Homo sapiens: one gene and its partner. The protein of the gene in region 1 purifies or fractionates together with the protein of each later gene. This does not show direct contact. Each region holds a gene or a part of one and is shown on either strand. Other genes may lie near its edges.

Region 1 (3,500 bases):
AGAGGACGAGGAGCCTGGAGTGGGAACCGTGATCCGTGAAACCTGCAGCTTCTGCCCCAACTGGGGATCTGAGTGGGTCTTGCAGGGGAGCCCCAGGCAGCCCACACCATGGGGCTGCCATACGGAGAGGCCCGCGTGATGGGGCAGACGTGCAGTCCCACTCTCAGAAAGCCCCACAGAACGTCCCTGGCCCTGTCATCCCGCCTAGAGAAGTGGGACTGGCACCTTCTGGGGAAAAGGGAAGAACGGCAGTTTGCATGAGTTCCAGTTATGAGCCTAGCAACAGGCTGGTGTTTCCCTGGGTCAGCTCACCTGGTACTCATGACAGCCCCCTGACGTGGGTGCTGTCATTATCCCCATGGTACAGGTGAGGAAACTGAGGCAGAGAGAAGCTGAAGCAGCAGCAGCAGCAGCAGCAGAGCCCAGGCCAGCAGGCCCCAGAATCATCACCTGACCATACCCTGGACCAGTCAGCAGTTCCCAGGCTGGGCTGGACATCAGAACCCCCAGGGAGCTTTAGACATGTGCCAGGTTCCAGGGCTCCATTCCAGAACTTCTCCTATGGGCTAGGGTAGTGGGTGGTTGATCTGGGAATCTCTACTTTAAGTAGGGAATCTCTCCAGAAGGTCTGGATATTGAGCACTGGCCCTGAGGAGTCAAAGGCCTGTCTCTGTGCCTCTAGGACAAAGCTGTGGGGTGTGCTCTCTCGCCCTGGTAAAGAAAGGAAGAGGCCTCTTTTGTTCTCTTTCTTCTTATATCTCTCCCTGCCACCGCCAGGAACAAGAACAGAACATCTGAGCCCACAGGGCTGGGGAATAATTTCTAACAAGGCCACACTAGCTAACAATCATGAAATCAAAATTTTGTAGACAATATAATCATCAAACAAGGCAGTGAGTCACAGCTGGCCGGAACCTGGGTGGCTGCACCAACTGGTAAACAATGGCTCTCAATGCCCCACCCTGAACCCAGGATAGTTTTAACTCTTTCCCTGCAGGTCCAGTGGTGAGATTCTGAATTTAGGAACATGCTAGGGAAGGAAGGTCTGGAAGCAGAACTGGAGACTTGGCATGTTCAGGTGGAGGCTTTGTGGGTGTGCCCGCCCTGTGGCCTGGGCCCTGCACAGAAGGGAGCAGCAGGCCCCGCCCTCCAGGGCCATCGTGACTTGGCTGTGGGTTTCATGTACTTTCGTGACTACTCTTGGCGAAGCTGGAGGGGCTGACATGACAGAGCCCCTACGGAGCCCCAGAGGAGACTAACGCAAGGTCATGAAGAGTGGGCGTGATCCCCTCAGACTCTGCCTCCCTGAACAGGAGGCCGTGGGCTCCACCACGCCGGGCTGAAAGCTCTACATCCATGACCTCATCTGATCCTCACAACCATCTCTAGAGAGGAGTATCATTACACTCATTTTACAGTGGAGGAAACTAAAGCTCAGAGAGGGTAAGCCAATTATCCAAGGTCACAGAGTCAGAGGAAAAGCTGGAAATCAGGCTCAGATGGTCAGACACCCAGGCCCACACACTGAGCGACCCCACCACACTGCCCCCACCCAGGCTACTCTAGACCACAGGGAGGTCAGCCCAGGAAGCTAGAGCAGCTGGATTGCCAAGGCTACTCTAGACCACAGGGAGGTCAGCCCAGGAAGCTAGAGTGGCTGGATTGCCAAGGCTACTCTAGACCACAGGGAGGCCAGCCCAGGAAGCTAGAGCGGCTGGATTGCCAAGGCTACTCTAGACCACAGGGAGGTCAGCCCAGGAAGCTAGAGCGGCTGGATTGCCAAGGCTACTCTAGACCACAGGGAGGTCAGCCCAGGAAGCTAGAGCGGCTGGATTGCCAAGGCTACTCTAGACCACAGGGAGGTCAGCCCAGGAAGCTAGAGCGGCTGGATTGCCAAGGCTACTCTAGACCACAGGGAGGCCAGCCCAGGAAGCTAGAGCGGCTGGATTGCCAAGGCTACTCTAGACCACAGGGAGGTCAGCCCAGGAAGCTAGAGCGGCTGGATTGCCAAGGCTACTCTAGACCACAGGGAGGCCAGCCCAGGAAGCTAGAGCGGCTGGATTGCCAAGGCTACTCTAGACCACAGGGAGGTCAGCCCAGGAAGCTAGAGCGGCTGGATTGCCAAGGCTACTCTAGACCACAGGGAGGCCAGCCCAGGAAGCTAGAGCGGCTGGACTGCCAAGGCTACTCTAGACCACAGGGAAGTCAGCCCAGGAAGCTAGAGCGGCTGGATTGCCAACCAGGAAATGCAGGGAGAGACGAAGAGACGGCAGAGGCCTGTTCTGGCGTGTGTCTTTAATGCCAAAACCCTCCTGCCCCCTAGCTGCAGCTGATGAGAAGTTTTCAAATGGAGGTTCTAGAATCCCCACGCACTTCTTCTGATTTTCACACACACTGAGACTTGGTCACACGAGCAAGAGTCTGGGATCAGCTCTTGCCCACAGTGCAACAGACACTCCCAGGATGTCGGTCGCTGCCCCTCCAAGCACACCCTGCTAATGTGGTATCTGCCTAACAGCTTCGGGGGGTGGGTGCTGGGGGCCTGGGGTGCCTCATAGGAAAGGGGACCTCTAAGGTGGGGCCCAGGGCAGCCCACGGCAGGGCCTCCCAGACCCCGCCCTGCTCCTCCTGAGCTAGGCAGCTGCTGGGGGCACACACCTGTTTGCAGAACCTCAGAAATCCGATGGAATAAGTCTTTCCCCAGAGGCAGCAGGTGCCATACATACAGCTGGACCTGGAAGAGACAAGCATAGCAGGCAGTGGCAGTGAGTGAAGAGCCAGGACTTGGGAACAGTGGGGTGGGGAAGGCCGCCCTCCCACCCATCCAGACGAGCTGGGGCACACATTCTGGGCAGACTTTGAACCCGAGGCCAAGCACAGGGAGAGGCATGGCAGGGCATCCGCACATGCCATAGGCGGAGGGACACAGGGCTGCACTGGCCCTGGGGTGACAAACCAACTTGGAGAGCTCTGAATGTAAAAACTGCAGGAGGCAGAAACAGACAGGAAAGCACTAAGACTGAGACAGGAAGAGACAGAGAGAGAAAGACTGAGCCGCAGAGGCCCTCCTAAAACGCCCAGAAGAATGGCGTTGCTCAGGAAATGTGGTGAGGCACAGCAGGTCAAGGTCACGGGCAGACATGGTCTGTGTCCAGCTGGTGCCAGGACGGCTCGAGGTACACCAGGCCCAGGAAACGGGGTGGTTTAGGGCTCTGGGAAGACTCCATACTCACTCAATGGGTTTTCCTCTGATCTCCGACATGATGGAACTTTCTCCTCCTAGGTACTCATAGCACAGGCTCAGGAAATTATAGATGACCAAGGCTGCGAAGAGAGTGTCCAGGAGAAACCAGTCAAATCAGCAGAATGGGTCCGCAGATGCTGGGATTCTAAACAGCAATGGAGGTGAAAGAGCCACAGCTGTGTGTGGCAACAGGGAGGAGGCTGGGGGACATAAGGTTGTGCAAAAGGAGCCCGTCAAGAACACAGACATCTGACCT
Region 2 (3,500 bases), on another chromosome or scaffold:
GCTGGTATAAACAAACCTACTGTGCTGCCAGTCACATAGAAGTACAGCATATACAATTACATATATATAGAACTTAATACTTGATAATAAATGACTACATTACTGGTTTATGTATTTACTACGCTATACATTTTAATCTTTATTTTAGAGTGTACTCCTTCCACTTACTAAAAAAAAGAATAACTGCCTCAGGCAGATCCTTCAGGAGGTATTCCAGAAGGTATTCCTATTGTTATAGGAGATGACAGCTCCATGTATGTTATTGCCACTGAAGACCTTCCATAAGGAGGTGGAAGACAGTGATATTTATAATCTTGACTCAGTGTAGGCCTAGACCAGTGCGTGCGTGCGTGTGCGTGTGTGTGTGTGTGTGTGTGTGTGTGTGTGTGTGTCACAAAGACCTTAGATGGGTCACAAAGCTCTGAATGCCAAAAAAGACAGCAAGGACACATTCCACATGTTAGTACCACCACTGTAGTAGTGTGTGTATCGTAGTTTTTAACAAAAAAGTTTAAAAGTAAAAAAATAAAAAGTTTTAAGAATAGCATAAAGGGCCAGGTGTCGTAGCTCATGCCTATAATCCCAGCACTTTGAGAGGCTGAGGCAGGAGAACTGCTTGAGCCCAGGAGTTCAAGACCAGCCTGGGCAACAAAGTGAGACTCTGTCTCTCTACCAAAAAAAAAAAAGAAAGAAAAAGAAAAAAGCTTATAGAATAAGGACCTAAAGAAACTATTTTTGTACAAATGTACAATGTTGTTGTGTGTTTTAAGTATTACCCCAAAAGAGCCAAAAAGTTTTAAAGTTTATAAAGTAAAAAGTTATAGTAAGCTAAAGTTAATTTATCATTGTAGAAAAAATATTTTTAAATAAATTTAGTGTAGGCTAAGTGTACAGTGTTTATAAAGTCTACATTAGTATACAACATAAAGTCTACATTAGTATACAATAATGTCCTAGACCTTCACATTCACTCACCACTAACTCACCCAGAGCAACTTCCAGTCCATCCATGGTAAGTACTCTATACAGGTATACTATTTTTTATCTTTTATACCATATTTTTACAGTACCTTTTCTATGTTTAGATACACTTACCACTGTTTTACAACTGCCTACAGTATTCGGTATAACACCTGCTCATACAGGTTTGTAGCCTGGGAGCAACAGACTATATCATGTGTATAGTACACTATATCATCCATCTATGTTTGTGTAAGTACACTCCATGTAATGTTCACACAATGACAAAATTGCCTAACAACACATTTCTTAGAACATATCTCCATTGTTAAGTGGTGCATGACTGTACTTGAACTTGTTTCTTCAATTGCCTGATCTTTTTCAAGAACCTAGGAAAAGTGTATTTCTCTAGCAAGAAGACAAGAAGTATGTGTCTTACCTTGGACATAGATAGCATATTCACACAATCCCTGAGTCTCTTGAAGCTGTTCTTTGATAACAGCCTGAAAGAGGGAGAAAAATGCTTCTGAGCAGTGGTTAAGTTTCTTCAGGTGTCTTTAAGAAAAAGTGGACATGGACAGGCCAGGTGCGGTGGCTCATGCTTGTAATCCCAAAACTTTGGGAGACCAAGGCAGGCAGATTATGAGGTCAGGAGTTCAAGATCAGCCTAACCAATATGGTGAAACCCCATCTCTACTAAAAATACAAAAATTAGCCGGGCAGTAGTGGTGCGTGTCTGTAATCCCAGCTACTCAGGAGGCTGAGGAAGGAGAATCGCTTGAACCCAGGAGGCGGAGGTTGCAGTGAGCCAAGATAGCGCCACTGCACTCCAGCCTGGGCAACAGAGTGAGACTCTGTCTGAAAAAAAAAAGAAAACAAATAGTAATGAAAAAGCAGACGTGGACAAGAATCATATGTAAAAAAACCTAGAGTATTAATAATGCCTAGTAAAGTATTAGTTCATTCAGTTTCTTAAAATTTCAACTCCCTTGTTGTGATTACTTCTTCTAGAACAGGGATTTGCAAACTACAGGGCTTACAGGCCCTGTATATTTTTGTACAGCTCTCAAGCTAACAGTGGTTTTTTTATTTCTAAAGGGTTATAAAAAATAAGATAACAAATATGATGTAGAGACTGTATGTGGCCTACAAACCCTAAAATATTGTTGGCCCATTACAGAAAAAGTTTGCCAACCCCTGTCTAAAATCTAACTAGGCAAGCTAAGAAAAGTGTGATAAGATTTCCAAGTATTATCACAGATGAAAAAGAAAGAGAACCTTTCAAGATTCATACTGGTGGCCAGGCGCGGTGGCTCACGCATGTAATCCCAGCACTTTGGGTGGCCGAAGCGGGCAGATCACCTGAGGTCGGGAGTTTGAGACCAGCCTGACCAACATGGAAAAACCCCATCTCTACTAAAAACACAAAAAATTAGCCAGGCGTGGTGGCACATGCCTGTAATCCCAGCTACTCAGGAGGCTGAGGCAGGACAATCGCTTGAACCCAGGAGGCGGAGGTTGTGGTGAGCCGAGGTCACGCCATTGCACTCCACCCTTGGCGACAAGAGCAAAACTCCATCTCAAAAAAAAAAAGATTCATACTGGTATCTGCCTTCGGATCAGCGGTGTCAAAAAAAACTGGTATGGGCCGGGTGCGGTGGCTCACGCCTGTAATCCCAGCACTTTGGGAGGCTGAGGCAGGTGGATTACGAGGTCAGCAGTTTGAGACCAGCCTGACCAACATGGTGAAACTCCACCTCTACTAGAAATACAAAAAAAAAAAAAAAAATTAGCTGGGCATGGTGGCGGGCACCTGTAATCCCAGCGACTTGGGAGGCTGAGGCAGGAGAATTGCTTGAAACTGGAAAGCGGGGGTTGCAGTGAGCCGAGATTGCGCCACTGCACTCTAGCCTGGGCAATAAGAGCAAAACTCCACTTAAAAAAAGAAAAAAAAAAACTGGTATGAATCTTTGTCATACCAGTATGAATTAGTTCTGTGCATTGCCATAGGTATAAATGCCATGGGTATAAATTAAAAACCTTAGATGGGTCACAAAGCTCTGGATACCAAAAAAGATGACACCAAGGATACATTCTGCATGTTAGTACTACCACTGTCTGCCTGCAAGTTTGTAACACATATGGTATGTCACCAAAGATACAGAGAAAGGGAAATACAAATGGTTTTTAAATATACACATGATGATCAACCTTGCAGTAAGAGAGAAATTAAAAAATAAAACTCAGGGCTGGGCACGGTGGCTCACGCCTGTAATCCCAGCACTTTGGGAGGCCAAGGCGGGCAGATCACAAGGTCAGGAGTTCGAGACCAGCCTGGCCAATATGGTGAAACCCCATCTCTACTAAAAATACAAAAAATTAGCTGGGCATGGTGACACTCATCTGTAGTCCCATCTACTGGGGAGGCTGAGGCAGAAGAATTGCTTGAACCTGGGAGACAAAGGCTGCAATGAGCCAAGATCATGCCACTGCACTCCAGCCTAGGTGACAGTGAGACTCCATCTCAAAAAAAAAAAAAA

Evidence for each region.
Region 2: the proteins of TMEM184B (region 1) and BBS4 purify together in Homo sapiens (affinity purification with mass spectrometry; one large-scale study listed by BioGRID and IntAct). This does not show direct contact.

What each region holds. Positions count from the first base shown.
Region 1 is NC_000022.11:38,228,011-38,231,510, forward strand, and holds part of TMEM184B (transmembrane protein 184B), read right to left. Parts: intron 3,406-3,500; exon of another isoform or gene 3,325-3,405; coding exon 3,234-3,324; intron 2,735-3,233; coding exon 2,659-2,734; intron 1-2,658. UniProt on the Homo sapiens protein: May activate the MAP kinase signaling pathway.
Region 2 is NC_000015.10:72,710,207-72,713,706, reverse strand, and holds part of BBS4 (BBSome complex member BBS4), read right to left. Parts: intron 1,464-3,500; coding exon 1,400-1,463; intron 1-1,399.